Linked DNA regions of Homo sapiens. The protein of the gene in region 4 interacts with the protein of the main gene of each other region in a pairwise test. Each region holds a gene or a part of one and is shown on either strand. Other genes may lie near its edges.

Region 1 (7,028 bases), on a different chromosome or scaffold from region 4:
GTTCAAGCGATTCTCCTGCCTCAGCCTCCCAGGTAACTGGGATTACAGGCATGCACCACCATGACCGGCTAATTTTTGTATTTTTAGAGACGGAAGTTTCTCCATGTTGGTCAGGCTGGTCTCGAACTCCTGACCTCAGCTGATCCGCCCACCTCAGCCTCCCAAAGTGCTGCAATTACAGGCATGAGCCACTGCATCCGGCCCAGAAGACAGATTTTTAAGGACTTGACAAGCCAATGGGAAGTGGCAAAGTGGAGCCATGAGTCCAACCTACGTTTTCTTTTCTTTTTTTCTTTTTGAGACAGGGTCTTGCTCTGTCATCCAGGCTGGAGTGCAATGGTGCAATCACAGCTCACTGCAGGCTTGAACTGCTGGGCTCAAGTGATCCCCCTGCCTCAGCCTCCTCAGTAGCTGGGACTATAGGCATGAGCCACCATGCCCAGCTAATTTTTTTACTTTTTGTTGAGGCGGGGTCTCACTGTGTTGCCCAGGCTGGCCTCAAACTCCTGGGCTCAAACGATCCTCCCACCTCAGCCTCTCAAAGTGCTGGGATTACAGGCATGAGCCCCCATGTTCAGCCTAGCCTGACTTTTTAGGAGCCTTGATGATGAAGGGGCTGAGTCCATGATGGGAAAGTCTTGCCTACCTCAGAAAGATGAGCAGAAGAGCCAGGAGAAAAGGAGAGACTGAAGGAGCCCAGAGGAGTCCCTTGGGAGGGAGGGTGGGAGGAGGCGGCTGAGGGCTTTGCACTGCCGAGCAGGGGGAGCCTGGCAAGTCATGGACTTTGGGCCTCCACGTCCTCAATCATGCAGGCAATGCAGGGCTTCCCTTGTAAGGCTGTGGTGAGATGAAATAGGAAGTAATCCATGGAAGGCCCTTGGGCGGTGCCTGGCACACAGGAATCAGTCAGGACACATCTGCCGTTACTGTTGCTCTGATCATCCAGCGCCCGCGTGCCGGTGCACACCTCTTCCCTGAGAAGCAAGGAGGATGCGCCAGGGTACCGGCAGAATGTGGTGTGCTTGGAAGTTGGGGGAAGTATGTGGAGGGGATAGTTCCTCCCCAACCCCAGGGCCTCTCTTCTCTGTGAAGTAGGAAGCTGGGTGGAAGGAGAGGCAGTAAAGGGGAGTAGAGCGTGTTCAAGGGCAGTGGGGAGGGAGCTGAACTTGAAGATGCACAGGGATCATCCATCAGGCTGTGTCTAGGGTCTTGCAGAGGTTAAAGGTGCCAGACCCACAGCTGTGTGAGTCTCCATGCTCAGCAGCTTGGGTATGGGGTACAAAGGCAGGTTCCTGCGCTGACCCAGGGGTGAGGGTTCATGGGTGCAGGTGAGGGAGATGGAGTAAGGGTTAAAAGAGAACGGCTAGGCCAAGCATGATGGCTCACTCCTGTAATCCCAGCCCTTTGGGAGGCCAAGGTGGGTGGATCATTTGAGGTCAGGAGCTCAAGACCAGCCTGACCAACATGTTGAAACTCTGTCTCTACTAAAAATACAAAAATTAGTTGGGCATGGTGGCGCACACCTATAATCCCAGCTACCCGGGAGGCTGAGGCAGGAGAATCACTTGAACCCGTGAGGTGGAGGCTGCAGTGAGCCGAGATCGTCCCATTGCACTCCAGCCTGGGTGACAAGAGCGAAACTCTGCCTCACAAAAAAAAAAGAGAGAGAGAATGGCTAGCTTTGGAAAACAGTCTGGCTATTCTTCAAAAGGTTAAACATAGAGTTATGATATGAACCAACAGTACCACTCCTGGGCTTGTACCCAAGAGAAAGGACAACATCTTTTCACACTGAAACCTCTACACGAATGTGCATAGCAGCACTATTCACAATAGCCAAGAGCTACAAACAGCCCAGGTGTCCCTCAACTGATGGATGGATGAATAAAGTTTGAATATCATTCAGTCTTAAAAAGGAATGGAGTTGTAATACATGTTACAACATGGGTGAATGTTGAACATATTCGGTAAGAGAAGCCGGTCATAAAAGACCATATGTCATATGATTCAATTGACGTGAAATGTCCAGAATAGGCAAATCCAACAAAGAGGAAGTAGACCTGTAGCTTCCTAGGGTTGGGAGGGTCTGAGAAGAAATGGGGAGTGGCTGCTAATGGGTACAGGGGCTTGGCGGGGAAGTGATAAAAATGTTGTAAAATTGACTGGGGTGACGGTTTAACAACTTTGTGAGTGTACTAAAAAGCACTGAATTATATATTTTATTTGGATGAATTATATGGATGTGAATTAGATTTAGATAAAGCCGTTAAGAAGAGAGAAGATATGGCCAAAGCTATGGTTTGTAGAGAAAAGAAACAAAGATAAGAGGATGAGGATGGGCTGGGCACGGTGGCTCATATCTGTAATCCCAGCACTTTGGGAGGCTGAGGAGGGCAGATCACTTGAGGTCAGGATTTCAAGACCAGCCTGGATAATATGGTGAAACCCCCTCTCTACTAAAAATATAAAAATTAGCCAGGTGTGGTGGCACACACCTGTAATCCCGGCTACTCAGGAGACTGAGGCAGGAGAATCACTTGAACCCGGGAGGTGGAGGTTGCAGTGAGCTGAGATCACACCACTGCACTCCAGCCTAGGCAACAGAGCAAGACTCTATCTCACAAAAAAAAAAAAAAAAAAAAAAAAAAAAAAAGGATGAGGATGAATATATGGAGCAAACAGGAATGAGAGCTGAAATCTCCATGAGGTCAAAGAATGAATGAGGTGGAGGAAAGAGCTGAAAGCCGCTAGGACTGCAGGCTGTCTCCGGAGGGTGGTGGGAAGCATGTGCTTGAAGATGGTGCCCTGTCTCCAGTCTTCTCCTCTCCACCTAGGCTGATCATCTTCAGTGTTTTCACATCTTCCTCCTGTGCTATGATTTCAGGTCTTGTCTGTTGAGATCTCGGTGCTTGTTTTTTCTTGTCCTTCCTGCCCCATGGTCCCTGGTGGGTCACACTTCCCATCATTAACACCCTGGAGGCCAGGCACAGTGGCTCCCTTCTGTTATCTCAGCACTTTGGGAGGCCAAGGCGAGAGAATTGCTTGAGTCTGGGAGTTTGAGACCAGCCTGGGCAACATAGCAAGATCTCGTCTCTACAAAAAAAATAAAAATAAAAAATAAATTTAAAATTAGCTGGGTGCGGTGGCATGCACCTGTGGTCCCAGCTACTTGAGAAGCTGAGGTGGAAGGATCGCTTGAGCCCAGGAAGGGAAGGCTGCAGTAAGCTGTAATCACACCACTGCCCTCCAGCACTCCAGCACTCCAGTCTTCCAACCTGGGCGACACAGAGATACCTTGTCTCAAGATAATAATAACAACGCCCTGGCTCAGGAGTGTCGCCTTCTCTTCTCCAATGTCCTTGGGGCAAGGTCACCCTTCCAGGTAAAGGCCCAGCCCCAGCCACAGCCACTCCTCCCACAGCCTCTGTAAGGAGGATGTCAGGCCTCCAGCCAGTGGCCCATCACTCCTGTAAAGGACTTCCCAGACCCAGACCAGAGTCCTACAGCCTCCTTCCCATTTTGACTCAAGGACCCCAGCAGTATGGCCTGGCCCTGTAGCTGTCCAACAGAGGGCAGCAGCTCCCGAGCTGATGGGGATGGTGAGGCAGGGACACCTGGAGCTACCAGGCTGCTATGCACCGGTCCTCACCTCGCTCTCCCTGCCACCCTGCAGAGTACACGGTGGCAGTGCCCAAGTCCATGTTCCCCGGGCTCTTCATGCTGGGGACATTCCTCTGGAGCCTCATCGAGTACCTCATCCACCGCTTCCTGTTCCACATGAAGCCCCCCAGCGACAGCTATTACCTCATCATGCTGCACTTCGTCATGCACGGCCAGCACCACAAGGTGAGCGGGGCGGGGTCCCAGCCCGGACCTAGCATGTGCAGCCCGAGAGGGCCCGGCAGCCAGCCGCAGCTTCAGGTGCTGCGGAGCCTCCTGGGAGTCTGGCTGTGGGTTGGGAGGGACGGGACGTTTGATGTGACTCACGGGGCAACTGGGTTGGGCATCCGAACCTAAGCCAGGCGGGGACAGCGTGGGTGTGCAGCATCAAGCTGACCCCAGGCCCTCTGCACCCTTGTTTACGCATCACCTTTAATCCTCAAAACAACTCATTCATTCGTTCATTCATTCAGCAAATGCCCAGTGAGTGCCTCCTGTGTGCGAGACACTGTTCTAGACATCATTGAACAAAACAACAAAAAGCCTTGCGCTCCTGGAGCTTGTGCTGAAAACAGCCCCATGGTTCTCCCCGTTCCACAGAGCAGGAGACTGAGGCCTAGGAGGACTAAGGAACTTGCCCCAGGTCACACTTGGCACAGCCAGGATGTCGTACCCCATTCTGGGGATTCCAGAGTCTGCGCTCTCAATCACCCTTCCCCTGAGGCCCTTCAAGGACTCCACGACAGTCCCAGAAGCTGGCCCGAGAAGATAGGTCTGCCCAAAGGAAGCTACCTCCCCTGTACCCCCCGCTGCTTCTCTGTCCCTGCATTGTGCTGTCCTTGGCCCATCCCAGGCTGTTCCCCAGCCCGTCTCCACACTCTGTTCTCTGCTGGGCATAAATCAGAGAAAATATGGCAGATATGATACTTTCGGGACACCAGTTTAGACCCTGATGTCGCTGATACTGAACGTGGGTTTCACCTTGGTTTCCCAGCAGCAACTTAATCCGGTTCATCTCGATGAGCCGATTCGGGGTTTGATCGGCCGCCTGGGACAGTTCTCAGGTTGGTTGGCTGTGGTCCTCCCGGCTCTCCCCAGAGTTGATCTGCATCCTAGGGGGCTTTCCTAGGGGCCAGTATCAGGGTGGGTGCCCAGTCCTGGGCCAACCTGTCTCTCAGGTATGCTCTCAGAGGTAGCGCAGCCCAGGCCTGGCCTGTGTCCTCCAGCCTCACCTGGCCTCTGCTCTGCAGAGCTCACTGCATCTGCTTCTGTGTCCCTTGCCCTGTTTGTGAAGCCTTTTCAGATCCACTGCCCTGTCCGCTATCTTTCCCATCCACAGGGGACACCAGAACCTTCTGGGAACCTGCTCAGGCCATTCTGGGGCCCCAGGGGCTGTCTCAGGCTCCCTCTTTTGAGACACTTCCACCCCAGTCTGTCCAGTCCCCTGCTGCCACACCATGAGGACCCGAGGAGACTGTATGGCCTGTAGCCACGTGGGCTCCAATCAGGAACGTGTTCTCAGATCCCCAGACCTATCCATCTAAGGATCCTGATCCAGCTGTGACCCGGATCTGGCCCATACCAGCTCACAAGAGCACCCATGCACATCCTTTCCTGTTTCTGTTCCAGTGACGCCACCTCAGCGCTTGAAAGCGCCAGGGCAGTTTTCACACTGCAGGAATTGGCAAACACTACCAATCAGGGCTCTCCCTCCCTCCCTTTATTTCCCCCTCCCTCATTCCCCAGCTCTCTCCCTTCCTCCTTTTCCTGAGAGCTGGTTTTCCAGCACATCACTGGTCCTGTTGTTCCTGGTCTGAAGGGAGGGAGGCCCACGCCAGCATCTCATTGTGTCACTGTCACCTGCTTTCTCTCTCTCTCCTCCAGCCCAGAGAGGCTGCAGGATTCTCTTCTCAGACTCCTCACCAAGCCATAGCTAAGATCTCACCTCTATGCCAGGCCCTTGGCTTCTGAAGCTCGAGGGCCACGGTGAAGCGGTGTTCTCTGGTTCACTGTGGCGACACCCCCTTGGAACAAAAAAGGCCTCCTGTTTGGACATGGGGGTGGGGAGGACACCTCTAGTGACACTTCCGGGTCATCCCGCCACAGAGGCTGCATTAACCTCAGTTGCCCTCAGTGCCTTGCTCTCCCAGACAACATCAGGCCTCAGTCTAGGTGCCCTGTCTCCAGAATGCCCCTCTAGCCAGGGGCACGGCATTTAGGGATGGGATACCTGTCTAGCACCTGACAAATTCCAGAGTCACAGTGGCCTCTATAAGATGGGCTCTGAGCCGCCAGCACACCCCACCCATCCTGCCCATCCTGCCCATCCCGCCCATCCCATGTTCCTTTGCAATCTGCCAGGTCCCTTCCTGGCTCACAAATGGGAAGTAAGACAGTCTCTCCAGATCTTCCAGACGTGGTGGCCCGCCCTCCCCAAAGCCACCAAAGGTGCCAAGCCTACGCAGTGGAATGTCTGGGCCGCTGTGCCCCTGTCCTCTGCAGGGAGTGGCCAGGGTTTGGCCAGCTGCCGGGGCCCCTGGCTGCCTCCTGATGCCCAAGCCTCTCCATCTGCAGGCACCCTTCGACGGCTCCCGCCTGGTCTTCCCCCCTGTGCCAGCCTCCCTGGTGATCGGCGTCTTCTACTTGTGCATGCAGCTCATCCTGCCCGAGGCAGTAGGGGGCACTGTGTTTGCGGGGGGCCTCCTGGGCTACGTCCTCTATGACATGACCCATTACTACCTGCACTTTGGCTCGCCGCACAAGGGCTCCTACCTGTACAGCCTGAAGGCCCACCACGTCAAGCACCACTTTGCACATCAGAAGTCAGGTGAGGATGGGCCTGTGCTTCCCAGCCCCCTATGTGTGTTCATTGATTTATTTGCCAACTACCATCGAGCTCCTGGGAACGGCAAGGCACTGTTCCATGTACGGGGCATATACAGAGGGTTCCCTCTACTCTCTTCCCTGGTGCAGACAGCTGTGCAGAGACAGGCAAGGACATCAATAAATGGCAAAGATTTCAAACTGTGATAAATGCCATAAAGAAAATAAAGGGGCTGGGTGTGGTGGCTCACACCTGTAATCCCAGCCGAGGGGATTGGGAAGCCGAGGCAGGTAGATCACTTGAGGTCAGGAGTTTGGGACCAGCCTGGCCAACATGGTGAAACCTGTCTCCACTAGAAATACAAAAATTAGCGGGGTGTGGTTGTGCCCACCTATAATCTCAGCTACTTGGGAGGCTGAGGCATGAGAATAGCTTGAATCCAGGAGGCAGAAGCTACAGTGAGCTAAGATTGCACCACTGCACTCCAGCCTGGGCAACAGAGCAAGGCTCTGTCTATAAAAAAAAAAAAAAAAAGAAGAAGAAG
Region 2 (5,586 bases), on a different chromosome or scaffold from region 4:
AAAAAAAAAAGAAGAAAACCTCAGTGGCCAGGTACAGTAGGTCATGCTTATTACTCCAGTACATTTTGGGAGGCCAAAGCGAGAGGATCACTTGAGACCAGGAGTTTGAGACCAGCCTGGGCAACAGAGCAAGACTGCATCTCCAAAAAAAAAAAAAGTACATTAGCTGGGTGTGGTGGTATGCACCAGTAGTACCAGCTATTCAGGAGGCTGAGGTGGGATGACTGAACCCAAGAGTTTGAGGCTACAGTGACATATGATTGCACCACTGCCCTCCAGCCTAGGCAACAGAGAAAGACCTTGTCTCTTGAAAAACAAAAAAAATCCTCAGAGGTCATTTTTGAAACAAGCTTCAATGCAATGTACAATCAAATAAGTTTCCTTGGTCCTTAAGTTATTCAAAATAGGTAATTTCTAAATATTAACAAAATACTTTCATGTTTCTATATCTTGCTGCTAGCAATATCTCATTCTATGAACTAGACAGCTCTGGCAATGAAGACCCCATAGGAAATATTATTTATAGTAAACTTTATTTTCATTGATATTTCACTTAACATAATTTCAAAGTCAGTCTGTGGTCTAAGATGAGCAAAAGAACAGATATTGTAAATCTCCTAAAAGACTTTTTTTCACACTGTTCCTCAGAGCAGGGAATGGGGTTTCAGAGCCCTGAAAGCTGACACCTAACATTTTACCCTTGAGATTTACCTACAGATACAGAAAGAAAAGACAACATCAATATACAAGAATCAAGCTCTATGAGGGTCTTATTAAGCTCTTGTGTTACATACTCGCCACCTCTGTAGGTTTGTAATCATGACTGATTTTCCACCTCTCTGCCAAGTTTGGTGTCTTTTTTTTTAGGTAAAATGTCAGATGCAAAAATGCTGCACTTATTTCTCTTAATATATTGAAAATAGTGGAAGATGCAGATTTTTAATTCTTCATCAGTCTAAGCTGGAACATGACTTCTGCTAATGGGGTCTGTTGAACATACTAACTCCAACTTTGGCGACCATCAGCAAACTGTTTAAAAGAAACAAGATAGAAAATGTCAGGTAAAGGACAGAACAGGCAACTATGTTTTTAAGGAACTAAACTGCTGGTTCCTCACAACTGCGTGGGGGAGGAGGTACTAAGGCAAGAGTGGTCAGGGGTAAATTTCCATCCCTGGAGGAACCAGAGAAAAAGCAAGCCAAGGGAGTCTTAAAATAGCACACATGAGCTGGATCCTAACCCAACTGCCAATAATTTGAAGAGATGAAGAAATGGAGGCAAGAGAGAGCAAGGCCTCCCCACCATCACAGATCTGATTAATGGTAGACTCTCCAGCGTCTCAGTTTACTGCTCTAGACCTTGCTCCACACTGACTTCCTTGCTTCAGGTATAAAACATTATACTGGTAGCATCACAACTATGATCAGAGTATGTAATCTTTCTCCAAAACAGATTTTTAAAAATTCCCCTACCTTCAGGATGTCTTTATGATACTTAACTAAATTTTTTGTTTTTGAGAAGGTTTTTTATTTTTATTTTTTCAGATGGAGTCTCACTCACCTCTGTTGCCCAGGCTGGAGTTCAGCAGCACAATTTCGGCTCACTGCAACCTCCGTCTCCCAGGTTCAAGAGATTTTCCTGACTCAGTGTCCCAAGTAGCTGTGATTACAGGTGTGCACCACCATGCCCGGCTAATTTTTGTATTTTTCATAGAGATGGGGTTTCACCATGTTGGGCAGACTGGTCTTGAACTCCTGACCTCAAGTGATCCGCCCGCTCTGGCCTCCCAAAGTGCTGGGATTGTAGGCATGAGCCACCACACCTGGCCTACAACTAAAGTTTTGTTTGTTTGTTTGTTTGTTTTTTGAGATGGAGTCTTGCTCTGTCCCCCAGGCTGGAGTGCAGTGGCATGATCTCAGCTCACTGTAATCTCCGCTTCCCAGGTTGAAGCAATTCTCCCTGCCCCAGCCTTCCGAGTAGCTGGGATTACAAGTGCCCACTACCATAACCAGCTAATTTTTGTATTTTTCATAGAGACGGGGTTTCGCAATGTTGGCCAGGATGGTCTTGAACCCCTGACATCAGGTGATCCGCCTGCCTCTGCCTCCCAAATTGCTGGGATTACAGGTGTGAACCACTGTGCCCAGCCACAACTAAATTTTTTAAAAACCACAATTTGGTTTAGGTTTTATAATCAAAATTAGAAAACAGGGCCAGCCGCAGTGGGTCACGCCTGTAATCCCAGCACTTTGGGAGGCCGAAGTGGGCGGATCACAAGATCAGGAGTTCCAGACCAGCCTGGCCAATGTGGTGAAACACCATCTCTACCAAAACAACAAAAATAGCTGGGCATGGTGGTGCACGCCTGTAATCCCAGCTACTCCGGAGGCTGAGGCATGAGAATCGCTTGAACCCGGGAGGCAGATGGTGATTGCAGTGAGCGGAGATCACGCCATTGCACTCCATCCTGGGTGACAGAGTGATACTCCGTCTCAATAACAACAACAAAAAATAGAAAACAGGATTCAATCAAAATTCTCTTTTAGCAAAATTTTCTGTAAAAGACATCTACACATCTAAGAAATATGGGGCCCCCAAATCTTCCATGCAAGTCACACAAAAGGCTGCAGTCATGGCTTTGCACTAAAACTTCTGCCACCATATAGGGAGGAGTTTGGATGGACTGGAAAGCAAATATGAGAACAAACCCATTTCCACGGTGAATGGATATACTCATGCCATTTTGACATTAAACTAGCTATTGTTTTTGAAACATTTCCTATTAGTGTATATATCAAATGTCAGTTGATACATAGCATCAGATATCCTGAAACAAGTAAGGTTTTGAATGCATAAGGTATCCTGGGGAATAAACTGAACTCTACATGGTAAAGAAGAGTAATAGAATGAAAGTACCTGGCACCTGCAATTAAACCTGCAGGCATGAATTTTCCAGAGTGGTAGAACCTCATTCCCATAATGCCAGCCAAGGTACCAGATGTAGCTGATGAAAAACATATAAAGAAGTGTTAAAACTCATTACATCTTCTACGCAGGGGAATCAGAAGTGGGCCAAGCCCCACCCATCTCTCAAGGCTCACGCCTCATCCTATGCTTATTCCTCTTTCCCCAAGTCGGGGAGACTACTGACTGCCCACATCCTATGGGTCCTAGTACCAATATTGGCCAAATAGGGCCCTTCACAGCCTGGGTCCTGCCTGCCCTTCCAGCTTCATCTCTTACCACTTGTCTTCTGCAAAACCCACACTTTAGCCATCAATATGTTAGTTTTCTCCAAAATGCTACTGTTTCTCACGCCCTGCAGACGCTACTTCCTCTACCCTGCACACAATTCCCACTGGGTATCTGTCGAAGCACCTACTACATGTCAAGTGCTGTGCTAGGAGCTGGAGAATACAAAGGTTATTGTAACTGTCTTTGCCCTTTTACAGTGCTTCAGGTCTGATGGGACAGACTTTAAAGACTCACACGAATAAAAAGGCTTAGACAAAAAAGTGAAGATTGGCTGAGATCTGAAATTACGCAGGAATTAATGAGCTGAAGGATGGGAAGGCCCATTCCAGGCAGAGGGGACAGTATATGCAGAGGCCCTGTGGTGACAGGGAGCATGGGACATTCACCCTAAAAGGGCAGCATGGCACAGAAGTCAAGATGCAGTTTGTGAGTAAGAGGTGCCAGACCACATGGAGCCTTGAAGGCCATACTGGGGTTTGGGTTTTCATCGTAAGAACAATGAGAAGCTATTAAAGGATGCTAAGCAGAAGGACACATGAACAGAGTCACATTTTTTTTTTTAATTTTTGAGACAGAGTCTTGATCTGTCGCCCAGGCTAGAGTGCAGTGGCGTGATCTTGGCTCACTGCAACCTCCACCTCCTGGGATCAAGCAATTCTCAAGTCTCAGCCTCCTGAGTAACTCGGACTACAGGCGTCCGCCACCACGCCTGGCTAATTTTTTTTTTAAATTAGAGACCGGGTTTCACCACGTTGCCTACGGTGGTCTCAAACTCCTGAGCTCAGGCAATCCACCCTCCTTGGCCTCCCAAACCTGAAGTCAGGAGTTACAGACCAGCCTGGACAACATGGCGAAACTCCTGTCTCTACTAAAAATAGAAAAATTAGCCGGGCATGTTGGTGGACGCCTGAATCCCAGCTACCTAGAAGGCTGAGATAGGAGAATTGCTTGAATCTGGGAGGTGGAGGTTGCAGTGAGCCAAGGTTGTGCCACTACACTCTGGCCTGGGCAATATGTGAGACTCCATCTCAAAAAAAGGGAAGTTTATGAAGGGGAAGGAGACAAGCACATCTGAATATCAATGCGGGGATCCACCTAAAAGGAGGAATACAAATACAAGACAGGATCCTGGCCAGTGTAAAGGTCTGGAGAAGATCAGGGAGAAGACACCCAAAGCCCAGAGGAAGACACTGGTGTTGGAGAGGAGGGAAACAGGACGAGGGGAGGCTTGGAGATTAAAGGCTCCAGGAGTCCCCACCTGATGGCTGCTGTTTTTTCCCTACAATAGGCGTGAGGTCATTTGCTGAGTAGAGTAGCATCAGAGAAAGGGAAAATGCAGGCTCAAGTCATTCTGGAGCATGAGGGAGGGAGCTGTTAGGCAGAGCTGGGACCTGGACACACCTCCTTCCCCAGCACACCCCATTAGCCATCACGGACCTCCCTTCCCCACCCCAGCTGATATGTACAGATCACATGGCTTCTCCCTCCCACATGGCACTCATTCTCACACGGGGTTTGTAGAGACCGCAAGGAACCCACACTCCTAGCAGTGTCTGACACATGGGTGGAGCCCCACAGAAATGTACTGAAAGCCACTCTGATAAGGAGGACTCTTCGGTCCCCCACACCACTCACTGTCCGTGCTGCTTACAGGGTACCTTTCCAGTCCTGCTTCTATGCCTATGTTTTTTGTTTTTTGACATGGAGTCTTGCTCTGTCGCCCAGGCTGGAGTGCAGTGGTGTGATCTCAGCTCAACTGCAATCTCTGCCTCCCAGGTTCAAGTGATTCTCCTGCCTCAGCCTCCCAAGTAGCTGGGACTACAGGCACCCGCCACCACCCCCAGCTAATTTTTGTATTTTTAGTAGAGATGGGGTTTCACCATGTTGGTCAGGCTGGTCTCGAACTTCTCACCTTGTAATCCACTTGCCTCGGCCTCCCAAAGTGCTGGGATTACAGGTGTGAGTCACTGCAGTCACATTTAGCTAACTGCTAAAGAGGTGATTTTCAAATGGGGAAATCGCAATTCAGATGCAAACCTAACCCAGACGTGTGATAGTTTAGTGATGCTGAAGCCAAAGGTCTTCAGTGGGCAACCTCAACGGTTGATACATTTGCCTGATAGAATTTTAATGCTACTGGGTAAATATAGTCACGAGCTATGAAAATCCTTCCATGTTCTGTATGTAAAAGATAAACAGAAACCAGCATAATTCCTGCCTCTGCACCCTCATTTTAAAACTTTCTGAGGACTTGGTAGAAGCAGTGAAATTGTCGTAAGTGAAGTGTGAAGAACTCACCCCATCCCACCAAACCAGGGTCTTTTGGAAAAG
Region 3 (7,925 bases), on a different chromosome or scaffold from region 4:
ACTTAAATGAAAAGTAATATAAAACTCTACTAAGGGGACATAAAAGAAGATTAGAATAAAAGGAAAAATGCATCTCTTCCTGGAACAACATATATTTTTAACTAAAGATTTCTTTCCATAGCTTGTGAAGATTTTGTAGAAATGTGAAAAAATGATTTAGGTTTTAGAAATATAGAATACTTGGGAACCTTAAATAAGTTGGTTAATTTATGAGTCTATCCCAAAGTTCCTCTGATACTTAAAACCGATTTGATTGCTTATTTACACTGCTTAATCTGAGAGATTTAGGCTACTTTATTCTCCAATATCTAACAGTTACATCTGAACTAGTATTCATCAACCCATTCAGAGCCTTTTTCAAATCAAACCCAATTTTCAGTCTAGTTGGATCACAGTGGGGTTAATCCATAGTGAGAATTAAAAGGAAAAAAAGCAGCAAAAAAAAAAAATCAGCATAATCTTGATCTGTAATACTGCTGCCAGAGTAATGTTTCTTAGTGTTACTTCCTATGGTTGTTGTTTTGTTTCTTTGTTTGGGATTTTTTTTTCTTGAATAAAAGGTCAGCCAGTTTCCCTACACAAAAAAAGGAGATGGAAAGACGTATACCAGAGGTTACAAAATGACAGCCTGAAAGTCACATCTAGCCAACAGAAAAAAAAAAAAAGTTTATAATCTATCCAGGCTTCTAAAGTCTTTTAGTGAGTTGCTGACATTTGAAAATCAGGAAATTTGCCTTAAAATATGGATTTCTGACTTACTGGATCATTCTATAGGCAGTCTAAGATCCAGATCAATAGCCAAGCAGGGGCACCACCAGTAATAATAGAGAAAATCTGAAATTCTGAAAGAAGCTATTTTAATTTCAGCACAAGTGTAAGTTTTGTGTAATTTTGAAAAATAAAATTTAATTTATGCTTTAGATATTTACTTTGAATATTATTTGGGTAAGGGGGCACCATAATCTTTTCACACTTTGGGCCTCTAAAAGTCTTATTTTGAGCTTCGTTTACAGCTCCTCATTAACAATTAGAAAATTTGGCCACACTGGGCTGGAATTCCCAGTTGTCAGCCTCCACCAGAGAAGGCATTCGCAGTTCCTGCCACTTTCTGGTTTTGTTGTACTCTGGTGCAATCCACTCATCGGGTTACCTGTCTGAAACATACAAAGACCAACAAGGATTTCCACTTACACTTTCGACATTTTAAGTACTCAGGATCAACCAGGACAACACCGTCTGTGGAGAGAAGGACAGACAGCACTTTGGTCAGGAAAAACTCTCAGACTATGAAACAGAGGATGATCCCTGAAATGGTTCTTCCTATTCTTCCCTTTAATTTGCCTCCTTTTCTGCACGGTCTTTCCTGGACTTTCTTTTACTCCCTAGTTTCCATTCCTCTTTCCCCAGGCTTCCCTTTTTTGGACTCACTGACCAATGGGTTCCACCGTGTCCACATGGTCCACGAAGTCCCGTTTCCCCAGGTAGATGGAGAGCTGTTGTGGAACAACTTCCCATGTTATTCTCACAATCATTTTTGAATGGATTCCCCTGAAACCCCCAACCCAGACCCCTGAGACCTTGAAGGATGTACCCACCTATCCCTTTTGCCCTCTCATTTGCCCAGCTGGGCCAGGTTCTCTCACCTTCCCATTGGAGCTGGTCTTCTTAAACACCCTATGAGGAGAAAACCAGAAAGAGGATGGAGAGGGGGATTGGAAGTGCAGGGAAGAGGAAATAAGGGAATTGGGGAGAAAAAGAAATATTCTTAGGATTAGGAGAAGAGGCTCCAGGAGCATAGGATGGGGCAAAGGTAGGGATAATTGGGGTAGAATCCAAGGACACAAGTTAGGGAGAAATTGGAAATCCCCCTACCCCAAAGGGAAATACTTGGATTGGGGTAGGGAGCAATTCACAGGTTCAGAGGATTAGAAGGAATTCTTACTTGGACATGTTGGCTATATAGTTGATGTTGAGCCTTTTCTGGGAAAAGGGAAAGAAGAAAGGCTCAATCATTTCATTTCTATTCTTCTCACCCCACTCCAGCATACCATCCATATACACCTAGTGTGATGTAACCTTTCCTCCTTAGACAGACACCTCACCCACATCAAGTACCTCCTATTCTCCCTTCTGCCAAGGGTACTTCTTCAGCCATATTCTTGCCCATCTTGGGCAAGAGGGGAAAAAAACCTTCCTATTTTGTACAAATCATTGACTAACCATACTATGTATTCTCCAGAAAGGGCCAAACTTCCTAGAATGGCTGGGGAACTCTTGAGAACCCTGAGAGAGAAGGAACTTCTCTGGAAAGAGGCTGGACAGAGGCTTCCATCCAGAAAAGTGTGAGAAAAATGTGTTTCTTGGTCTGTATGAGGCTAGACATCCCCTGGCACACACTAGGTGCCAAGACATGTTTGTTGGATACATGAATGAATGAATGAATGAATGAATGAATGGACAAATCAATGGATTCTGTCTCCTTCTGCTCCTGCAATGGATCCTGAACCTGAGTTCACCTCATGATGCCCTTGACTCTCAACAAAGAAGGGAGAAAAGTGTGAGAGAGAAGGGGTTGGTGCCTTCATGCTCTCAGTTTTTGGTGACAGAAGTCTCTATGGAGGTTGAAAGTCCTCCTTGAACCAACTCATCCCTCTCATTGCCTTTCCTAGATTTTCCCATCCTTATCCCCATCCAGGTCCCCAGGGGCTAGGCCTTTGGATGGGAATCCTTAGAGAGAGGGAGATGTCTCTCTAGTGCTTTCCTTTGATGCTTACTGAGCCTGGCCCAGGGGGTGAGCTTAGGGGAGCTTCCAGAGGTCTTTGGAGGGTCTCTAGGCCTGAATGTCTATAGGCTATGTCAGGAAGGGTGTCCCTCAACTGCTGCCTGATATATTAAGAGGGATGCTAAGAGCAAGGGATATAGGGCTTAGTATGGGCTAGAAGTAGAGGGCTTTGGAATATTACCTGGGGAGAGAGATGAAGTTCACATCAGTCTCCAGCTCTGGTTGCTATGCCTGCCTCCCCAGCCTCTTATACCCACAGTCCTCTGAGTGTTTTGATTGGTGGGGGTCATGGGAAAAGAATAGGGTTCTTGGTGGGGGGGCATAAAACACTGCTATAAATAGTTCAGGTGCCAAGAGTTTGGAAAGCAGATTAGTGCCTAAAAGATTAGTGGCTAAAAGATTAGCAGGCTATTGCTGCTGGGACAGAGTGGGGGTAGGAGGTTGATTCTGATGATGTTAAAGGCAAGGGAGTTTGAGAAGGGTAACTTCAGGATTTTGGCCTTGTGAGGCCTTGAACCTGAGAACTGGGATCAAAGTGGAGTTGGAGGTCTTAAAGGTGAAGCATGGTGGGGGATTGAAATGGGAGGGCTCAAAGTATAGGCCTTTGTGTTTTTGAAAGGAATACCTCGTGTCCCACTCCAATCTCTATATCAGCGGCTCCAGGCCACACAAAAGCCAAGGGTATGGGAAAGAGTACCTCGTCCCCAGCCCCCCACCACTTTGGGACATTGGACTTTTGAAGCTGATGTTTAGAAACCCTGATTATCCCAGCTTATGTGCACAGCAGGAGTCAATCTCCTGTAGGTAGTGGGGGCAGGAGTGGTGGAGGGGGATCTGAGTGCATTGAGCTGTGTATGCACATGTCTGTGAGCCTTGAACTTCTCTTCTCATTGGAGAGGAAGGTAATATAAGATTCCCAGCCCAGGGACAGGTTCTTCTGGCAGGACATGCATGTGGAGGGAATAGGCGGTTGACATCTGTGTCACCCCTACCGAGGGTAAACCTCCTCACCCCAGCTCTTGACTCTGTCCAATCCCTGAAACTAACTAAGTCCATGCTCTAAGCAGCTTCTCTTGCCTCGTATGACCGCTCATGGAATTAGAGATATTTCTGTCTCTTCAGCTGCCAGGACCCCCACAACAGCAACAACAAAGTAATCTTCCTTTCTTGACTGTCCTTCCCACAGGGCCTAGGCTCAGGCTTCACGGGCATAGAAAATGTAGAGACAGAATCTATAAGCTCTGGGGTTTCAGGACTCTGACCTCCTTCACCTCCCCTTACAGCAGTCTGGACATTAGTAGTTATCTATAGACACAGCCCTCAACCCCAACCCCCACAATGGGGTGTCCATTCCTCAGAGGATGGCTATGGCTATGGCTCAGAGGGCTGGGCAGGGCCTTCCCTAACTCCTGCCCCTCACTGAGGGCCCTGGACAGCTGTCCCATATTCTCTTTGCACAGTTCACAGTGTCAGCCCCTGCCATTCCTAGCCAATATGCATCTCAGGGCCTGGTTGTTTAGTTACTATAACTCTCTCCTTCTCAGGGGCTTTCAGATAGTGCAAGAAGCCCAGATTCTGCAGGTACCACAGTGGGATAGGAACTGATGCTGGACATACAGGAAAGATTTGTATACATGCCAAGGTTGGTGTCTGCGAGGAAGGCGAAAAGTCAGAATGAATCTACTTTTCATGCCAGACATGGCAATATTCAATGGCAGGAAAGGAAGGCCTCTCTTCTTGTATGCTTATTTTCATCATTCAGGAAACCTTTCCCAGATCTCTAGAATGACTAGTGGTCAGCCTGTTTTTGTCTTTAGACCCACACTCGAGGCTCCTACCTCCCTTTTAGGTACTCAATCCCGCTTATCTTCTCTTTCTACTCAGATCCATGGGCCTCTCGGTAGGAAAAGAGTAGATCTGCTAGGTCTTTAATTCATTATTATGATGGAATGTAAATCATTACTCTTTTCCAGAAGTTTGTGCATTTCTTGACTGAGGTAAAATTCACAAATCTTAACTGCAGCTCAATGAATTTTTACCTACTGTGGCAAGCTGAATTATGCCCCCAAAGATGTCAGGTCTTAATCCTGGGAACCGATGAACATTACCTTATATGAAAAAGAGACTTTGCAGATGTGAATAAATTAAGGATGTTGAAATAGGGAGATCATTCTGGATTATCCAGGTGGGCCCTAATGTAATCACCAGTCTCTTTATGAGAGAGGGGCAGAGAGAGTTTTGACTCTGAGATAGGAGGAAATATGAGGCCTGAAGCAAGATGTTAGGCTGCTGGCTTTGAAGACGGAGGAAGGGGCCATGAGCTAAGGAATGCAAGGAATACAGCTCTAGAAACTGGAAAAGACAAAGAAATCGATTCTCCCCTAAAGTCTCTCATGGCTGCAAGATGGCTGTTCCTGCTCAGGCATGGCCCTGCTGAAACCTTGATTTTGGTCCATTGAAACTGATTTTGGACTTCTGACCTCCAGAACTGTAAGAGAAGAACTGTGCATTGTTTTAAGTCACCAAGTCTGTGGTAATTTATTACAGCATCCATAGGAAACTAATACACCTGCGTAAACGCGCATATAACGACCACCCAGGTTAAGATATAGAACATTTCCATCCCCCCAGAAAATTTCTTTGTGCCTCTTTCCAGTTAGTAGCTTCCCAAAGAGAACTGTCACCAGTTTTGCTTTGACCTGGAATACTTGCATTTTACAAGGATGCAACAGTAAGTAGGCAAAGGAATGCATAGCTAATGGAGTTTCTGGCCCCTATAATACATGGGTGGAAGAAATATTTTTAGGTCCTTACCCACCCTCATTCTGTACACCCGGATGATATCCCCAACCAGACCTTCCAGTTAGAAAATGATGATCAGATGTCTGCATGAGGAAGGAGTGGGTTATTCAGTAAAAGGTTGTAGCAGACAGAATTGCTTACCAACTCAATAGTCATCTCCCTCTTCCTCCTTGTGGAAAGAATCCCCATTTTTAAGGTAATTCATCCTCCTCCGCATGAGTCTGTGCTCCTCTATGCCAGTCATGGTCGTTTTATCCCCCTTGCCAGTGATCAGCCTAGTTATAGGCATGGTGAAATTCAGGCCACTGTGATGTGAGAGGAGGTATGCTGGAGAGATTCTGGGAAAGTTTTCTTGAATGATAAAAATAAGCATACAGGAAGAGGCCTTCCTCTTTTACCATTGAATATTGCCATGTCTGGAAACAATGCCTGACCGGCAATAGCCACCTTGTGACCATGAAAGTTGCTAAATAACATGCTGAGGTTTGCAAATCAGAAAGATGGAAAGAATCAGGATTTTTTAATGACATTGTTGAACTGCTGAATTAATCAGCTCCAAAGCCACCCACTACTGAACTTATATGCAAGATAATATATTTCCTTTTTTAAAAACAGTCATCTAAGTTGGGATTTTCTGTTATTGCAACTGAAAACATAGCAAAAGATTCAAGTGGGATGTGGATGAGGCATTAGCTCAGTGGGGGAGGACGGAACGGAGATAGATGGATTAAATCGCAGAAACAGATTTCCTGTGCTGTCCTAGGTGCTGAACAAACTAGTCCTGGTCTCCACTCTAAGGTTGTTAACAGCCTTGCTGGAGATAAAGTTGGACATGTAGAAAGACAAAAAGGGCACACTACAGAGAATACATATGGACAAAGTTAACTTGTGTACAACTATGTGAAGCCAGTCACTTCCCAATGATTTTATTAGTAAGTTTAGACATCCAGGGCTTCAGATCACTACTCCTTTCCATTGAGATTGAGTGACTTTCGTGTTCCACTTACTCTCAGCAGGTAATTCCATTTGTTCACTTCATAAAGAAAATTCAGCCAATTGGAGTGGACCTCACACCTTCCAAATACACGTATACTTTAATTCTCAATAACGACAATGAGGGCACTCTGCTGGGTTCCTTACATGCATTGCTTCATTGTCTTCTCACAACAAGCTAGGTGCTAGCATCCTCATTCTACATATGAGGAAATGGAGGTTCAGAAAGACTTATCCATAGTCATAGCCGGCAGGCGATGGAGCCAGAGTTCAACCCTAGGTCTGTCTGACTCCAAGCCTGCATTTTTTCCACTATATCACTTACCTTCCCTCCCTCATTTTCTTCCCTCTCCCTCCCTTCCTACCTTTATTCCTCCTTTCTCCCCTCCCTCCCTCCTTCCCTCCTTCTCTCCCTTCCTTCGTTCCTTTCCTCCTAACTCAGATAAAGAGATTAGAAATCATGCCTCTTCCCCCTTTCCTTCTTAAAGCCCCAAGGAAACAGCAAACCTTGCAAAGAAACTGTCATCAAGACAATTACGAATATTAGATGTGAAGGGCCAGGAGGGAGAGGACTGGAACAAACTGGAGGAGTAGGGCAATGGAAGGGTGTCAGCAATAATGGTATTTGTACATCTTATTTATCTCTGTCAGGGAAAAAATAGTAAACTTTTCCTGCATACTAAATTCCAGACATCAATGAGATACCCAAGTGTGTGTGTCCTATAGCAAACAACATATATAGGGCTTAGATTATAGATGTGGGAACCATTCAGTTCAACAAATTATAATTAAGTCATTCATTCACTCAACAACTATTATTGAACATGTACTATGTGGAAGGTACTTGTTTTCTTAACTCTGAATTGGAAGGCATTTTTTGGGGGACAGCAGAGAATATAATTTGAAAGGAAATATCTAGAACATATGTTATAATAACTTTACCTGGAAGGCTATGGGAAAGACAGAGGTAAAATGAGGTACATGTTCTCAAGGAGCTCTGGTTCTGGTATGGGGGTGGGAGGATCAGGAGGAGATGGCCAAAAACACAAATGAGTATAATTCTAGGCTGCCTGTGGTATGTGCCATCTCTGTAGAAATCAAATGTGATAAGAGTGTGAGAGAAGGAGAGATGCATTTTGATTAGAGAGAGATCTGTATGCTGGAGTCTCTTGGCCATTACAATTTTTGATAACCTCTGAGTCATAGTTGAAATCATGAGAGTGGATGTTCCAAGAGAGAAGGGGAAGAGAGGGTGGGGGTAGGGGGAGAGAGATGGTGGAGAGGGAGAGAGAGGAGAGGAGAGGAGAGGAGAGAGGAGAGGAGAGGATCTTTGGGGGAAGGCTCACAT
Region 4 (7,028 bases):
ATAATAGTGTGTACATGGGGAAGCTATACAAACTTGTTTGGAATAGAAAAAGGAAAATGTCCAACAGTTAGGCCAGGAAGGGAGATTCTTTTTGATATACACCCTCACTGCAGGTTTACTGTAGGTGGTTATTTAATAAAGCCTTATTGAATTTATCTATTTGATGGGATTTTTAAGGTCTAAATAAATAGCATTAATCAATTATTTGTAGAATGGGGATTTTTATTGGTATTGGGAAGAAAGAGAAACCATTCTGTCTTACCTTAGTGTGGGGATGGTTTGAACACCCAGTGGCAGCCTGACAGTTCAGGGTGTCGTGGAGCCCAGATGAGGTGGCAGTAGTGGAAGAGCAGTTGAACCAGGAACTTGCAGGGCCCCGTGAGAGCTTCAGCAGCAATGGCACAGGATGAAAATAGTGGTTGTGTTTCTAGGGTCTCAATTGTGGTATCAGGTTTGATTTGAAAGGTAAATTTTTGTCCAGTGGAGCCCATTTTTATTTATGCAGTTTTTCCTGGCACAGGTTCAACCCAAAATCTTTTGCTATGATTTCTGATCCTCCTGTGCTTGGGAGATATTATTCCTACTGAGTCCCATAAGAAGAGTGAACCCTTGCATTTTACCTAGACTCAAATAATCCACCTGTTTGCTTAGTCTAATCTGTTAACACACCCTCGCTGAAGCCCATAACTTCTACAGAGGGTTAATGACTTTTATACAGTACTCAATACAGTTGATGAATGAATGAATGAGTGAATATGAATTCAGTTTCAGTGATATGGGTCATGTCACTGTGGAGATGATCTTTTATTTCAAATACAGTATGAGAACCTTACAATAGTATACTTTCATTTCTTTCCTTCTGGCCTTTTCATTATTGTCTTTTAATAAATTTTAAACCCTAGAATATATTTAAAAAAATACTTTCTCTTTAAATACTTTTCTTTTAAATAATAATAAAGATCTGTTTACTCAGATAATTACCATTTCTGGTGTATTTCCATCTATCATTTTTCTTTTGTCTAAAGGACTTTAGCATTTCTTATAATGTGAGTTGGCTGACAATGACTTCTTTCAGCTTTATTTAAAAAATATTTTTTATTTGTTTCTTGTATTCTGAAGTTGTGCTTGTGGATCAGTGGGTTTACAATTTTCATAGAATTTGGAGCTTTTTGGCTATTCTTCAGATACTTTTTCTGTCCCCCCATTCTTTCTTTGGGGACTCCAGTATACACATTGACTGGCTTAAAGTTGTCCACTGCTGCACTTTTAATTTTTTAAGGTTATTTTTTCTTTCTGCATTTTATTTTGGATATTCCAATTACTTTGTTTATAATTTCATTAATATTTTCTTTTTCAATATCTAATCTGCCAGTAATTCCGTCTAGTGTGTTTTTCATCTCAGACATGTTTTATCACTAGACATTTGTTTTGGATCTTTTTTATATCTTCCATGTCTCTATGCAACTTTTTTAGTATATGAAATAACAGCTATAATGACAGTTTTAGTCCTCTTTTCTGTCATTGTTGGCATGTGTGACTATTCTGAGTTTGCTTTTCTCCCTCACTTCGGTCAGTTTTATTTTCATTTTTGTTATTATTTTTTACTTATTTTTGAGTACAGATCTTGCTCTGTTGCCCAGGCTAGCATACAGTGGCGTGATCACAGCATACCGCAGCCACGAACTCCTGGGCTCAAATGATCCTCCTGCCTCAACCTCCCAAGTAGCTGGCACTATAGACCATGCCTGGATAAGTTTTTCTTTCATTTTGTAGAGTCGGGGTCTTGCTATTGCCCAGGCTGGTCTCAAACTCCTGGGCTTAAGCAATCCTCCCATCTTGGCCTCCCAAATTGCTGGGACTGCAAGTGTGAGCCACTGCACCTGGCCCAGTTTCATTTTTAAGTAAAAGTTTATTTCAGACTAGTTTTAGATTTACAGAAAAATTGTTAAGCTAGGATGGAGTATTTTCATATACCTGACACCCAGTTTCTCATATTGTTATTATTTATAGATTTAGTACAAGTGCAGTGTTGTTACACCACCTGAATAGTGCACATAAGCACCCATGAGGTAATTTCTCATCCCTCACCCACTCCCATCCTCCCACCTTTCTGAGTCTCCAATGTTATTATTCCACTCTCTATGCCCCTGTGTACATATTTTTCAGCTCCCACCTGTAAGTGAGAATATGTGATATTTGACTTGCTCTTTCTGAGTTATTTCACTTAAGATAGTTACCTCCAGTTCTATCCATGTTGCTACAAAAAAACATGAATTCATTCTTTTTTTATAGCTGAGTAGTATTCCATGATGTGGATTACTTTATCCAATCATCCGTTGATGGGCACTTAGATTGATTTTATGTCTTTGCTATTGTGAGTAGTCCTGCAATAAATATTTGAGTACAGGTATCTTTTTGATATAATGATTTCTTTCCCTTTGCGTAGATCCCCAGTAGTGGGATCACTGGATCAAATGGTATTTCTATTAGTTCTTTGAGAAGTCTCCATATTGTTTTCCATAGCAGCTGTACTAGTTTACACTCCCAACAACAGTCTGTGAGCATTCCCTTTTATCTGCATCCTTGCCAACATCTGTTATTGATTTTTTTGACACCTGAGTAATAGCCATTCTGACTGGTGTGAAATGGTATTTCATCGCTTTTATTTGCATTTCTAACTTTTTAAATGTTTCTTGGCCATTTGTATGTCATCTTTTGCAAAATATGTGTTCATGCCCTTTGCCCATTTTTTAAAAAGGTTATTTTTTTCTTGTTGAGTTCTTTGTAGAGTCTACAAATTAGCTTTTTGTAAGATGCATAGTCTGCAGATATTTTCTCCTGTTCTGTAGATTGTCTGTTTTCTCTGTTGATTATTTATTTGCTGTGTAGAAGCTTTTTATTTTAATTAAGTCCCATTTGTCTATTTTCATTTTTGTAGCTTTCCTTTTGAGGTCCTAGGCATGAATTCTTTGCCTTAGGCCAATGTCCAGAAGAGTTTTTCCTAGGTTTTCTTCTAGAATCTTTATAGTTTCAGATCTTTCAGGTCTTTATACTTTCAGGTCTTTAATCCATCTTAAGTTGATTTTTGTATATGGTGAGAGATATGGGTCCAGTGTCATTCTACTGTATATGGTTACCCAATTCTCCCAAGTATCATGTATAGAATAGGGTGTTCTTCCACTAGTGTATGTTTTTGTTGACTTTGAAGAAGATCATTTGCCTGTAGGCATGTGTCTTTAATTTGGGTTCTGTAAGCTGTTTCATTGACCTGTGTGTCTCTTTTTATAATAGTTTTGGTTGTTATAGCCTTATAGTACAATTTGAAGTCAAGTAATTTGATGCCTCAAGTATTGTTCTTTTTGCTTACCATTGCTTTGGCCATTCAGGCTCTTTTCTGGTTCCTTGGGTATTTTAGGATTGTTTTTTCTAATATTGTGAAAAACAATGTTAGTATTTTTATAGGAATTGCATCTGCAGATTTCTTTGAGTAGTATGGTCATTTTAATGATACTGATTCTTCTAACCCATGATCATGTTTGTGTCATATGTGATTTCTTTCGTCAGCGTTTTGTAGTTTTTCTTGTAGAGATCTTTCACATCCTTGGTTGAGTGTATTTCTGAGTATTTTATTATTTTTTTGTAGCTATTGTAAATGGGATTGACTTCTTGGTTTGGTTCTTGATTTGGTTCTCAGCTTGATTATATCATTGTTGTATAGAAATGCTACTGATTCCTCCTCACAACAAAAAATACAAAAATTAGCTGGGTGTGGTGGCACGTGCCTGTAAGTCCCAGCGACTTGGGATGCTGAGGTGGGAGGATCACTTGAGCCCAGGAGGTCGAGGCTGCGCTAAGCTATGACTGCGCCACTGTGCTCCAGCCTGGGTAACAGAGTGAGACCGTTTCAAAAACAAACAAAGAAACAAACCCCAACTAAACAAAAGAAATACTACTGATTTTGTAGGTCGATTTTGTATCCTGAAACTCTACTGAATTAATTTATCAAATTTACGAGTGTTTTGGAGGAGTCTTAGGGTTTTCCAGGTATAAAATTATATCAGCAAACAGAGATAGTTTAACTTCCTCTTTTACAATTTAGATGTCTTTTCTTTCTTTCTATTGCATTACTGCTCTGGCCCGATAGGACTTTTAGTACTGTGTTGAGTAGGAGTGGTAAGAGTGGGGATCCTTGTCTTCTTCCATTTCTTAAGGGGAATGCTTTCAACCTTTCCCCATTCAGTATGATGTTGGCTGTGGGATTCTTGTATATGGGTTTTATTATTTTGAGGTATGTTCCTACTACACCAAGTTGTTGAGTGGTTTTTATCATGAAAGAATGCTGAATTTTATCAAATGCTTTTTCTGTATCTATCGAGATAATATGGTTTTTGTTTTTAATCCTGTTTATGTGGCAGATCACATTTATTGATTTTTGTATGTTAAACCCTACTTGTATCCCTGGAATATAACCCACTTGATTGTGGTGTACCATGTTTTTTGATGTGCTGTTGGATTTGGTTTGCTAGTATTTTCTTGAGCGTTTTTGCATCTGTGTTCATTAGGGGTACTGATTGATTCTGTTTCTGTTTTTGTGTGTCCTTGCTTGGATTTGGTGTTAGGGTGATACTGGCTTCAGTTAGAGAGGATTTTCTTCAATTTGGGGGAACAGTGTTGTCAATAGGATTGGTACCTATTCTTCTATGTCTGGTAGAATTTGGCTGTGAATTCATCTGCTTCTGGGGTTTTTTGTTGTTGGGAGATTTTTTTTTATTTTTATTACTGGTTAAGTCTTACTGGTTATTGGTCTCTTCAGGCTTTCTCTTTCTTAGTTCATTCTTGAGAGGTTGTGTGTCTTTAGGAATTTACCTGTTTCATCTAGGTTTTCTAGTTCGTTAGTGTAGAGATGTTCATGGTAGACTCTGATGATCTTTTGTATTTCTGTGGTATCATTTGTAGTGTCTTTTTCATTTCTGATTGTGCTTATTTGAATTTTCTTTCTTCTTGGTTAATGTAGCTAGTAGGCTGTCAATTTTGTTTATCTTTTCAGTGAAGCAACTTTTTGTTTCTTTATCTTTTGGGTTTTTATGATCTGGATTTCATTTAGTTCTGCTCTTCATCATTTCTTTTCTTCTGGGTTTGGTTTGTTCTTGTTTTTCTAGTTCCTTGAGGTACTATGTCAGGTTAACTTGTGGTCTTTCTATTTTTTTCGATTTAGGCATTTAACGCTATAAACTTTTCTTTCTTGAATCCATTTACAGTCAACACTATAAGCTTTTGCTGTATTCCAGAGGTTTTGGTATGTTGTGTCTCTACTTTTGTTTAAAAAATTTTTAAACTTCCATCTTAATTTCATCACTGACCCAAAAATCATTCAAGAGCAGGTTAATTTCCATGTATTTGTATAGATTTGAGAGTCCTTCTTGGAATTGACTTTAGGTTTTTTCCACTGTAGTCTGAGAAGACAACTTGAAATGATTTCAGTTTTTTAAAAATTTATTGAGACTTGCTTCATTCCTTAAGATAAGGTCTGTCTTGGAAAATGTTCCACATGCTAATAAGAAGAATGTATATTCTGTGATTGTTGGGTAGCTTGTTATATAAACATCTGTTAGGTCTATTTGTTCTACAGTCCAATTTAAATCCAGTGGGGTTTTTTTTTTCTTTTTTTTTCTGTCTCAGTGGTCTGTCTAGTGCTGTCAGTGGGGTGTTGAAGTCCCCTCTTGTGCTATAAAGGAATGCCCAAGGCTGGGTAATTTATAAATAAGAGATTTTATTTGGCTCACTATTCTGCAGACTGTACAAGAAGCACAGTGGTTGTGTAAAAGTGCCTGGCCTCCTCTCTTCAGCCTGGCTTGTTGGCTGGTAGCAGCAGCTGCTCAGGGCTCGGAAGCCTGTGTACTCCCATGTGAGTTTGAGCAATGCCTCTGTCAATCTCCAGGCAACTCACTCTATTAGGCTGGAGACCTGCGAGGGTCAAGGGGGTCTCCCACAGCTAGCGTTGCAAAAGTCCATGGTGGGAATGTGGAGCCCTGGGAGTCTCTCATCTACCCTTTCCCAGCATCTAGAAGCTTCTTTCATCTCTCAGCAATCCTGGCTGAGCACGTGCCTTGCTTCCTTCTCCTTTGTGATCAGTGATTCCTGTTGCTTTTCAGTTGAATTCCAGTGTTCTGTTTTAGATGACCTATTTGAAGGGTGAATATCTACTCGCCGTTTTGGAGCTTTCCATGGAAGAGGCATGTACTAGCTGCATCTAGTTAGCCATCTTGAACCAAGCTTCCAGTTTCTCATATTATTAACATCTTAAAATAGTGTGCTGCATTCATCATAGTTAGTGAACTAATATGAATACATTATAGTTTTAAAGTCCATGCTTTATTCAGATTTCCCTACTTTTTAACTAATGTCCTTTTTGTGTTCCAGGATCTCATCTCTAGGATGTAGCATATTACATTTTGTTGTTGTATCTCCTTAGGCTCCTCTTGGCTATGACAGTTTCTCAGACTTCCCTTGTTTTAGATTACCTTGACAGTTTTGAAGAATACTGATCAGGTATTTTGTGGAATGTCCTTCTATGGGAATTGTCTGATATTTTTCTCATGACTAGACTAGGGTTATAGGTTTTGGGATGGAAGTCCACAGATACAATGTACCAGTTCATCACAACAGATCGAGTATACTATCAACATGATTTATGACTGATTTTCTTGACCACCTGGCTGATATAGTGACTATCAGGTCTCTCCACTATAAAGTTACTCTTTTTCTCCCCTTTTGTACTTCATTCTTTGGAAGGAAGTCACTAGGCATAGCCCACTTTAAAGAATGGGGAGTTGTGCTCCCCCTCCTTGAAGGTGGAGTCTTTACATGAATTATCTGGAATTCTTCTACATGTCTGGAACCCAAATTGCAAGATTGTCCAAAAAATACATTTTTCAATTTTCTGCCCTGTCCTCCTTGATAAAGGGATCCTGAAAGAAATGATCTGTATCCCAGGATTCCTGAAAGGTGATAAGTAAGAAGGTAATTCA

What was found.
Region 1: the proteins of MARCHF8 (region 4) and FA2H interact in binary tests that used the Homo sapiens proteins (3 or more experiments, as listed by UniProt).
Region 2: the proteins of MARCHF8 (region 4) and TMEM14C interact in binary tests that used the Homo sapiens proteins (3 or more experiments, as listed by UniProt).
Region 3: the proteins of MARCHF8 (region 4) and ARR3 interact in binary tests that used the Homo sapiens proteins (3 or more experiments, as listed by UniProt).

What each region holds. Positions count from the first base shown.
Region 1 is NC_000016.10:74,715,806-74,722,833, reverse strand, and holds part of FA2H (fatty acid 2-hydroxylase), read left to right. Parts: intron 1-3,673; coding exon 3,674-3,846; intron 3,847-4,260; coding exon of another isoform or gene 4,261-4,584; exon of another isoform or gene 4,585-6,234; coding exon 6,235-6,487; intron 6,488-7,028. UniProt on the Homo sapiens protein: Catalyzes the hydroxylation of free fatty acids at the C-2 position to produce 2-hydroxy fatty acids, which are building blocks of sphingolipids and glycosphingolipids common in neural tissue and epidermis.
Region 2 is NC_000006.12:10,726,058-10,731,643, reverse strand, and holds the end of TMEM14C (transmembrane protein 14C), read right to left. Parts: intron 3,005-5,586; coding exon 2,917-3,004; intron 1,030-2,916; coding exon 978-1,029; 3' UTR 517-977; downstream 1-516. UniProt on the Homo sapiens protein: Required for normal heme biosynthesis.
Region 3 is NC_000023.11:70,263,411-70,271,335, reverse strand, and holds the start of ARR3 (arrestin-C), read right to left. Parts: upstream 3,003-7,925; 5' UTR 2,964-3,002; intron 1,981-2,963; 5' UTR 1,951-1,980; coding exon 1,943-1,950; intron 1,675-1,942; coding exon 1,644-1,674; intron 1,494-1,643; coding exon 1,433-1,493; intron 1,261-1,432; coding exon of another isoform or gene 1,237-1,260; coding exon 1,192-1,236; intron 1-1,191. UniProt on the Homo sapiens protein: May play a role in an as yet undefined retina-specific signal transduction. Could bind to photoactivated-phosphorylated red/green opsins.
Region 4 is NC_000010.11:45,525,358-45,532,385, reverse strand, and holds part of MARCHF8 (E3 ubiquitin-protein ligase MARCHF8), read left to right. Parts: intron 1-7,028. UniProt on the Homo sapiens protein: E3 ubiquitin-protein ligase that plays several important roles in innate immunity and adaptive immunity.